2 separate regions of the Homo sapiens genome follow, and region 2 is linked to region 1. The links come from fine-mapping of genetic effects on gene expression. A gene starts in region 1. The other region holds a variant in brackets. All regions are shown on one strand. Distances are between the middles of the regions.

Evidence for each region. PIP is the estimated chance that this variant, and not a neighbour inherited with it, causes the effect.
Region 2: its variant is the best candidate, but not a certain one, in a credible set for the expression of LINC01269 in whole blood (TOPMed, PIP 0.61).

The regions. Positions count from the first base shown.
Region 1 is chr14:70,696,103-70,701,476 of GRCh38, reverse strand. LINC01269 (long intergenic non-protein coding RNA 1269) reads right to left here and starts at 2,779. Exons shown (of 4, transcript NR_125769.1): 1 at 2,621-2,779; 2 at 1,277-1,482. RefSeq lists enhancers at 2,062-2,561, 2,562-3,063, 2,470-3,669.
Region 2 is chr14:70,653,365-70,658,738 of GRCh38, reverse strand. All of the region lies in intron 1 of TTC9 (tetratricopeptide repeat domain 9), which reads right to left. Among named protein-coding and RNA genes, the nearest start is that of TTC9, 14 kb to the right of the region's middle. RefSeq lists enhancers at 3,999-4,058, 4,632-5,218 and a silencer at 4,119-4,258. The variant C/G (reference allele first, on the strand shown) is at 2,946.

The DNA of each region.
Region 1 (5,374 bases):
ATGGAAAAATCTTGGTTTCCTCAGCTTTGTTCACTGTGACAAGAAAGAGTGAGCTCCCACAGTGACAGCAACAGACTCTGACACATCTTTTCAATCTTACTTCTCTTTCCATTTCCTTTAAAACTTTTGGCCTTAAAAACTTTGACCAGTGTGTAGGATTGTTATAGAGACAGACAAGTGGTCCAGGAAAGAAACTCAGGGAATTTCCGACATGAGGGAAGAGGAAGGAAATCCTTTGTCTCACATTTGTTGTTTCCTTTGGAGTGTTTTCCAAAGGACACTGGCCTGTTGACAAGGCATCCCAAGGGCTTTGGGGCTGGCCCTTCCTTTTCCTTGTCCCTGGTCTATGTCTGTCCTTGTAGCCTGGTGCCTGCTTCAGGGCTGGGAGCTGGGGTTGCCAGATGTGCTCTGAACCCTGCTGGCAGAAGCACTTGTGTTTGGCCTCTGTCTCTGCTTCCCTGCCCTTCTCTTCCCCAGGTCCTCGGTAGCCCTGTTGAAAGGCCAGTGGCTTCTCATGCTTTCAGAAAAATTTAGACAATAAAGAGGCTGCAATGATGAGCTGATTGCTTTCAGGCTGACAGCTAAAGTCTGTGTCGGCACTGAGTCAACCATCAAGAGGGAAGGTGAGCACCTTCCAGCTAATGCTGGGTTCCCAGCTCCTCCCATTGGCTTGTGAGACGTGCTATGTCCATTTTGTCTCTTCTCTCCCTTCAGCCTGTGTGCATTCCTCTCCTCTGGGCCCACTGCTCACCTGCTCTCATTCTGTTCTTTAGTATTCTGTTCTCTCTCTCATCCCACACTATCTTCAAAGAGAGCCAGGCCTTGGAGAACGGAGGGAAGTCCAAGTTCCCCTTTGGCTTCTGACTCCCAGTGTCCCCTTTCTGTGCCCTTTGCTCACCCTCTTTCCAGGATCTGCCTCCTCCATGCTTCTCCACCCATAGCATCACTGCCTATTCCTAGGAAGGATTTGGATACCAGTCATGTGTATCTTCAGCAGCCTCATGGCATGATGTTTTGGAACACACATGCACTTGGGAACTTAGTAGCTTGGGTTGAAATCTGGGCCCTGTTCCTTACATGCAACTTTGAATATGTTAACAAAAGTCTCCATGGGCAAGTTTCCTCAATCTGTAAATTGGGGCTAACAGTATATATCATGTGATTGTGAGGATTAAATGAGTAATGTATGTAAATACTTTGGACAGTGCCTGGCACTTGAGGAGTTTTATAAAAATTAGGTATTACTACCATATGAATACAAATGAATGTGCTGTACCTCAATAAGGAGATCGGTGAGTAGGAGAGGCCCCCTTCCGTGCCATGGCAAGCTCAATCAAGGGCCACCATGGGGTGACCAGGCTGTGGGAATGGCCAGATCCATGCGTGCTGCCATCAGCATGGCCAGGTGAACGTTGGTGATGACCAGAAAAGGCTGAGCCAAATGCTCAAATCAGCACAGTGGGCTTGAGACTTTGGGAGCCACTGTGGAGAAGAAGAGCACAGTTGAGATAGGGAATGGAAGGTAGGTTCTGCACAGGCAGGCGTGATGTCATTCCTCCTGTCACTGGGCTGCAGGGTGAGCATCAAGCCAGCCATGCAGGAGAACAGAAAGTGCACCCTGCTGTAGAGGGGTGTGGGGGTGTGTGCATGGCCAAATAGAAGACGTGTTGCTTCCCTAGGAACCTGCTAGCGGACTGGTAGGAGGGACCGCAGTGTGTGAAGCACTGATTGCCAATAAAAACCATTTCGTTGTCACCTCCCTCCATATCCTGTGCCCTTGTTCTGGTCCTCAATGCAATTCATAGGCTTTTCTTTCCCCTCCCAGGAAAGGTCCCTGGGCAAAGCCTGTGACCACAGCCACACCTGTAGGTGTGTGAATTACCGTCTTCTATGTGTCTTCTTTGCTTTCTCTAAAAGGGAGGGATGGAAAGCTTTTCTTTTTAATTTTTATTTTTTTGACAGGGACTCACTCTGTCTCCTAGACTGGAGTGCAGTGGTGTCATCATAGCTCACTGCAGTCTCTGCCTCCTGGCTCAAACGATCCTCACACCTCAGCCTCCTAAGTAGTTGGCACTGATAGGTACATGACTGCCATGCCCAGCTTTTTTTTTTTTTTTGTAGAGATGAGGTTTCTCCATGTTGCCCAGGCTAGTTCTGACTTTTATGAAAGACACAGTATCATTACCCAGCAGGATGACAGATGTTAGAGATCCAGGACCTCCTCCTGGTGCTCCCTGGCTCAGTGGTGGGGCTATCTTCCCAAGGGAGAAGTGGCAGATGGCACACAGGGTTCCCCCGCTCAAGGCTTTTGGGGCACCGTTCATCCTGGGGCATCACTCACATCTGCAGTCCCAGGAGTTGCACAGGGTGCAGATTTGCCCGGGGACCCCAGCCTCAATTGGGCTCAAAGGGACTCTGCCTCAGGATCCCTTCCTCCCTGTTCTTGGCTGTCTTTTGTGAAGAGCTGTGGGTGGGGGAAGGTGACCGTGGGGACTGAGAGCAATCAAATTGAAATGCAGGGCTAAGAGAAGCCATTGCTTTGGGCAGAAAGAGAAAATTCATGGCAGAGGGAAGAGCAGGTCCCAAGCTTCCCCACCACCCCCCATGTCCCCGCTCTCACCTCAAGCTTCAGAGGGCAGGATCCTGCCTTGGAGATGATGTACCAACACAGCTACCTCCCCACCAGTTCATTAGGAAGACAAATGCCTGAGCCAAATTCCTTAGGATTTGCCAAGAACCAATTCCTTAGGATTCTTTTTCTGGCAACTTCCATAGCATTGCCAAGCTAATGGAGGGATCCCAGGGATATATCTGATGCCTGGAGCAACAGGAAATGCGGGAGCCCACAAGACGATCAGTCAGGTGTGTGCACCTAGCACAGTGGCAATGCCCAGTGTCCTGATACAGACCTTTGTAGTTCCCTTGGGCTCAGGAGGAACCATAATGCCAAATGACACAGTCACATGGAAGGGCAGGGCTGCAGCCACAGTGACTCAGCAGGAAAAGAGTTAGTTCCCCAGAAGGATCTAGCTTGAGGAATATCTGAGGCCAGAGTGTAGCGGTTGGTCTGTTTGCTTTTACATTCTGCAACCCATTTATTGATAAAACTGTTGTGTTTTTCAATGTTAAGTAAAATGCTATGCAAAAGTATCCTCAAGCCAAGTCCCCTAGCTCCAGGGGTGATTATCAAAATAATGCCAGAAATTAATGTTTTTATGCAAGGATGTCGAGGAGGTCCTGGAGTCCAGGGGAAGGGGCCTTGGGTGGTTCAGGGTAGTGCCATTTACCAGCCTGGAGGAAAAGCAGTTTAATATTTTCAACAACCTATATTGATACACATGTGTTGGCTGAATGTCAGCCCTGCCTAGCCCTCACCTCAAACTGACCCTCACCTCAAACTGAAGCTTTATTGCATAAGCATTGTGGTACTTACTCTTGCCTGAATATTGAAGAAACCCCATTCCTCATCTCCAAATCCCTCATATGGCTGTTTCTCCAATGTGAGTTTCAGAAGACTCTGAAGTGTGAGAAATCTCTCTGCTTTGACCAGTCTTTTGGGCAAGGCCTCATGTGTCAATAAGGGTGTGTCTCCTTCCTTTCCAGCTCAGTCCCAACTATTTTCTTTCATATAACACGTACTGTCCAGTGGAACTTCTTGCTCTTTCTTTTCACACACACCCTAAGCATTCATGTCTGTAAGCCTTTGCTCCTGCAGTTTCCTCTACCCGGGTGCCTTTTTCTCTTCTCTCCTTGTGTCCAACTCATGGTCATCCTTTAAGGCCTTTGCAAATGCCACCTTTTCCAGGAAAGTCTCCAACTATTCCTCTCTTCATAAATGATCTCTCTCTGTCCTGTGACATCTTAAAACAATTTTTTAAAACTTCAGTATGGCACTTTAGAATTTTGTCATCATCATTACTGACATCATCAACATCATCATTATTTGGCTGGATTCATTGAGAATCTACTATGCGCCATGAAAATATTCTGTGCTCTACAGTCTCATTTGCTTTTCTGTCTTGTAAAAATAATTATGTATGTATGTATGCATGTTTTCTTCCTTTCTAGCATACAGTAATAAAGCAAATGGAATTTGGAATCAGATTTGGGTTTGGACCCGAGTTCCATTATTTGGTTGTAGGACTTTAGGCAAATTACTCAGGCTTCCTAAACTTCAGCTTTCTTGTTGGTAAAACACTGATAATAACACTTACCTCATAAAGGGTAATTGTATTACATCAAATAATAATAATAATTGCCAGCATTTGTTCAGTGCATATTATATGCTGGGCAGTGCTCCAAGTACCAATTCTGTATTATTTAATAATTTAAATCCTCACAGTAACCCTATGAAATAACTAATAGTACCCTTACTGTACGGAGGGAGAATCTAAGGCAAAGAAGCCAGTCAGTGGAAAGCTAGAATAAGAATTTTGACTTTAGAATCCTCACTTTTTTTTTTTTTTTTAACTGAGTCTCACTCTATTGCCCAGGCTGGAGTGCAGTGGCACTACCTCAGCTCACTGCAACCTCTGCCTCCCAGGTTCAAGCAATTCTCCTGCCTCAGCCTCCCGAGTAGCTGGGACTACAGGCACCCGCCACCATGCCTGGCTAATTTTTGTAGAGATGGGGTTTCACCATTTGGCCAGGCTGGTCTCAAACTCCTGACCTCAAGTGATCTGCCCACCTCGGCTTCCCAAAGTGCTGGAATTAGAGGCGTGAGCCACCACGCCTGGCCAGAATCCTCCCTTTTAATCATTACCAACAAATGCCTCTGTAGGGTGGATGATACCTGGCCTGGGCTGGATATTGTCTGGACGGTACGTAGCCCAGTATCTGGCAAGTATTTCAAAATTGGCAGCTGTAATTCTTATTCCCATTCTTACTGCTCAGGGCTGGGGTCTATCCTGTGCATCTCTGTTTCTCCACAGCACCTCATAACACTAAGAGCTTGCATTTGTTTAGCATTTTCCATGTGCCAGGGACTGTGCTAAGCCTCTAGCCCTAGCAAATGAATAAATGAGTGATTGAATAAATGAATGAATGAAAAGATTAGACAAAAGCTCTTGAACAGTGGGCAAAGACTATCTGAAAAGAGGATTCATCCCTTCCAGTTTACTTGCCAGGCAAAAAGATGAAGGGATGGAGGAGAGGCCTCCCAGGGACCTGAATAACTCCCAGTATTCATCAGTATTTTCATTAACGACTTGAAAGATGGAGTGCAGAGTATGCTAATCAAATTGGTGAAGCCTGCGAGGCAGAATAGAAGCTGAGCACTTATGAGGGAAGCTGGAGCTTGCAGACAGTACTTGACAAATTGGAGAAATAAACAGAGTTAATAAACAGAGCTTCAGGAGCTGCAGACTTCAAGTGG
Region 2 (5,374 bases), 43 kb after region 1:
TCTCTAAGATAAGAGCTCAAGAGTGCAATTCCTGGATCATAAGAGAAAGAATTTCATTTCTTGTCATCAACTATGATGTTGGCTTCAGTTTTTTTTTGCAGATGCTTTTAACTGAGATCAGGCAATTTTGCTCTATTTCTAACTTGCTAAGAAATTATTATTTTTTAAATATCTGTGAAATTATAGCACATCCTTGCCTAATGGTAATGCTTTGCAGAACCTGTTAGGGGGTCTCTCTAATGAGTCAGATCTACAGGTACAATCATCAAATGTGCCCTTTAGTTTTACAAAGAATAAAATTATTTTTCATAGCTACATTCTCAAATCAGGATCATTACTGTTCTTTATGAAATGCGTCTCCCTTGCTCTTTCAGACAAACATCTCTAGAACATCTTTAAATTCTCACACAGCACCTACCACAGTGGTTATGCCCAACTGGCAGCAAGACCTAACATATATACGGTGTTTTACAACTCATTTAACTTTCATGGAGACTCCGGGAAATAGCTATTATTAGCTCTGCTTCCAGGAGCTGAGGCTTGGGGAAGTTAAGTGACCCGCTGAGCCCACTTAGCTCTTATGGGGAAAGAGCTAGTGTTTACTTAACCCCAAATCCCATATTGGTTCCAATCCAACAGAGCTGGTGGTAATGGTGGAAACCCGGACTGGCTGATCTCTGAAGGTCTTTATCAAGTCTGAGGACTGAGAACTCTGGCTCAGAGAGTTAGCACCCTCCAAGTGGCTGTTTCTTTGTTTGTTTGTTTGTTTGTTTGAGATGGAGTCTCGCTCTGTCGCCCAAGCTGGAGTGCAGTGGCACTATCTCAGCTCACTGCAACCTCTGCCTCCTGGGTTCAAGCAATTCTCCTGCCTCAGCCTCCCAAGTAGCTGGGATTACAGGTGCCTGCCACCAGGTCTGGCTAATTTTTGTATTTTTAGTAGAGATGGGGTTTCACCATGTTACCCAGGCTGGTCTTGAACTCCTGACCTCAGGTGATCTGCCCGCCTCGGCCTCCCAAAGCACTGGGATTACAGGTGTGAGCCACCGTGTCTGGCCCACAAGTAGCCGTTTCTTTGTTCACTCCAATACCTATTTCTCCTGCCTGCTGCCCAGAGAGTCTCCCACTACTGCTGCTGCTATTTCTACTGCCAGGAGCTGTTTGGCTTTATCTAGGGGGCTAAATCTCCTTTGATTCCATTCACATTAATTTCTGACCTTCCACTTTTCCATTCTAGTATGTGCTTGCACTAGATTCAAACAAACACTGTCAAGTGTGTCTTTTGTTTTCTTTGTTTTAGCAACACTGTCTTTGGAGATCTCTCCTTTTCATCATAACCAAGCTGCTCCCTTGAATCCCTCTGATTCTTCACATGGATGCCCCACCTTTGGGATCACTACCAGAGCTGCTGCTTCCCACGCATCATCACTACACAATTTCGGGTAGGCACTCTTAGTAAACTTAGTCAATAAGGATTCACTCATCGTGGCCTGTGCCCAGGGCTTCATAAGGAATATGGAAAGCATTCAAGAGATATTGATATCTTCAAGGAGTTTATATTCTTTTTAATTACCCTCTGTTGGCAAAAATAGCTGTCAAAGTGGCAGGTAAAAGAACTGCATGGAAAGTCAGTATAAAATCCTGTAAGCTGAAAGCTTACATTGACAGTCCTTTAAAGCATATAGGAATCTGCCCAAGGGAGTTGTAATGCCAAAGCTTAAGGTCAGCTCAGCCCTTTGGCACCAATCTGGGTGCTATGGCAGAACACTTAGAAGTTATCCCACCTATGGCCCCTTACTCTCACCCTTGACTTTGGTGTAGTAGACAGAGAGGGAGAAGGCAGTAGTGAAAAGTTGGTAGGACAGAGCTGTTGTTTGCTGGAATCTTCATTAACACCCCTTCCTCAGTCTGGAAGCGGGACTTTGGAGTGGCCAGATTGGCCATTTGGAATGTGAAGATGAGTGTATTCCCAGAAATATTCAGAAGAAACCCATCGCCCCATATTATCTTTTCCTTCTCAGCTCTGGCCAAGTACACACGTCACGTTCATTGGCAGAAACTCTAAGCCAGAATGGGAAGACCTTAGAAGCCAGAGTTCTATCCTGTTCTCTTTTTGGACATTAAAGAACGTCTCCCATTTCAATCCCCTCTCCTGCCCCAGAGACATGTTCCCTGTTCCTATTGCCTCTCCCACCATCTTTCCCTCATGTCCTCAGATGTGTTTGGGGATAGGATAATTAACAGGCACATGTATAGCGGAAAGAGCACGTCTTTGGCAGCATTGTGCTGTAATCACAGAATGCTGGAAATAACCTAAGTATCCATCAGTAGATTAGTTAAATAAATAATGGGACATTGGTGCAATGGAACATTACACAGCCATTACAATCATGCTGTGGAACGGTGAAAAATATTTTCAATGAAAACACTGGTGGAAAAACATGAAGGTTGCTAAAGTTTGTACAGTATAAACCTGAATGTTGTGAAAAATAAATGTGTGTGTGTGTGTGTGTGTGTGTGTGTGTGTGTGTATCAGGGTGAAGAATTATTTTTTCTTTTAAAAGTTCTGCTCCTTCTGTATGGGTGAAGAATTTGTAATATCTATAGCAGAGTTTAAAGGAATAAATTATCTTTTTGGAGGAGACTGGCTTCATCAACTGCTTCAGGTGGGGAAGGTGAAGCTTAGAGGTCAGTAGCAGGCACACACGTAGATGAAAAGATGCCCAGACTGCTTTGTATATGAAATGAAGGGAATCTGAGAGTGGGGAAACCTAAGAAGCTGAGAGGAGCTGGCGGGGAGAAAGAGTCCAAGCAGCATGGCGGGGAGCTGGAACCTGCCAAAAAATGTGAGTGGTCCATTTGAAATTCCTGGTGGTCTGATGGCCAAATGAGTTTTAGGAGGAAGAATTTCTACTATTCAATTTTTGAGATGTAAACTCCTTCTGCAT[C/G]TCATAACCTTCAGTAAAGTCTAGTGAAATTATACATCTGGGTGTAGTGGTGCTGTGGAATGTGAAAAGGAAGTAGCAGCAACAGGAAGTCGAGTGGCCCCTTGGTTGTCATGCAAACAGAGTGAGCAGCATCCTGTGGGAGGGGAGGGGAGAAAAGACAGGAGGTCCCTGCAGTGGCCCCAGCCCACGTGAGAACAACCCCTTGTTTCCTAAATACACTGGGAAAGGTAGACCTGAAGGGGGTTGGCTGATGTTTGTTTTACATATAAATGATCATACACCCACACGGAAGAAAAACGGCAAGGAAATAAACCAAAACGGTTAACTGTTGTCATCTTGGGGTGGTAAATGACAGAGTTTTACCTTCTTCTTTGTTTTTTTTTTTTTGTTTCTTGAGATGGAGTCTCGCTCTGTCGCCCAAGCGACGCTTGGAGAGCAGTGGCGCGATCTCGGCTCACTGCAACCTCCGCCTCCCAGGTTCAGGCGAGTCTCCTGCCTCAGCCTCCCGAGTAGCTAGGACTACAGGTGCACGCCACTGCGCCTGGCTAATTTTTGTATTTTTAGTAGAGACAGGGTTTCCCCATGTTGGCCAGGCTGTTCTCAAACACCCAACCTCAGGTGATCCACCCACCTCGGCCTCCCAAAGTGCTGGGATTACAGGCGGGAGCCACTGAGCCTGGGCTGCTTCTTTGTAATTTCTTATATTTTCAATGCTAAATTAAATTTAGCCTAAAGCTGCCTCCTTACATAGTCTAAGTTTGGCCTAAAGGTTTCTTTGTACATAAGGAACCATAGTAAACTGAAAACTAGCTGGATGTGTAAACAGTCTGCAACCTACTCTTATGCCAATCAACTGAGTTTTAGCCAATCAAAGGCAACCAAGTGTTCAAACTGAGTTCAAATAAGGCAAATGCAGAGCTGTTAAGTATCAGCTGTTTCTGTACCTCGCTTCCATTTTTTTGTACGGTGGCTTTCCTTTTTCTGTTTCGTAAATCTTCTTCCACCATGTGGCTGCACTGAAGTCTCTCTGAGCCTATTCGGGCTTGGGAGGCTGCCCGATTCACGAGTCATTCTTTGCTCAATTAAACTCTGCTAAATTTAATTTGTCTGAGGTTTTTCTTTTAGTATCAATAACTTCTGCAACTATGATGCTTTACTTTTGTAATTAGAATTTTTTTTTTTTTTTTTTTTTTTTTTTTTTTTTTTGAGACAGAGCCTTACTGTTGCCCAGGCTGGAGTGCAGTAGTGCAATCTCGGCTCACTGCAACCTCCGCCCCCAGGTTCAAGCAACTCTTCTGCCTCAGCCTCCTGAGTAGCTGGGACTACAAGCATATACCGCCACGCCCGGCTAATTTTTGTATTTTTAGTAGAGACAGGGTTTCACCATGTTGGCCAGGCTGGTCTCAAACTCCTGACCTCAGGTGGTTCACCCACTTTGGCCTCCCAAACTGCTGGGATTACAGGCATAAGCCACCACTCCCGGGCAGAAACTATTTTTAAAAAGTCACCACTAACCATTATCATCCCTTCAGAGAGAGCTGGGGGATGAGGGGAAGAGGAACTTGGGAGGAGAGGTGTGAAAAGGGATTCAGAAGGGTTTCCTAGGCAGAAAGCACTGCCTCTTCATGGGGCACTGTTCTGGGGATGCTTAGGGTCATGAGGGACCCTGGGTGTTTTGGTGGAGGAGCAGCTGTGAGCGGATCCAAGGGACACACCTGCTAGTGCTCTCACTCCCAAGATGCCTGATTAAGCCAAGGACTTTCTTCATCCTACCCCAATAAGGAAGCTCAGTAAGCTGGCATCTGCCTGATGCACAAGAGGGTGGGTGGGGCAGTCCCGAGGCTGCCAGCCCCATGGCTTCTCTGTCGGATGTCTCCTTCTATGAGCCTCTGCCATCCTCTGTTTCTCTTCCCACCAGAAAGCCTTCTTTCTTGTTAAGCTCCCCTGGGGACTCAAATGATCACAGCATGTATCTTCTCTTCCCAGCAGGCAAATCCTTATTTTCCGCTGTCAGATTCTCAACTGGTCTGACTTGTGAGAGTGCCTGAAGTTCTTTCCCTGCTTTTCATTTCAAAGACAGGGTCAGGGGGAATCCTGGGGCAAAGTGTGAAAAGTGGCAGGGAACAGGCACTGTCTAACTGAGCCTTATTCATTTGGAGAATCTCAGGCTGGAGATGATGTGTGCCTAGAACCCACAGTTTCTAAGTGTTTCTTAGACTGACCCAAATCCTGAGAAGCTGGAAGGGGCATAGACCCCTGACCCATGGGCTCTTGGTCATGGTGGAACTCTGTGGTCTTTCAACTAACTGATGAGTTATATGTTCACTCAGCCTCCCTTGACCAGGAATACACCAGGCATGGTGGTAGACAATGTCCACACCAAAGGCTGTTGGCTTATACCTTCTCACCTCTCCTGTCTTGCAGACACT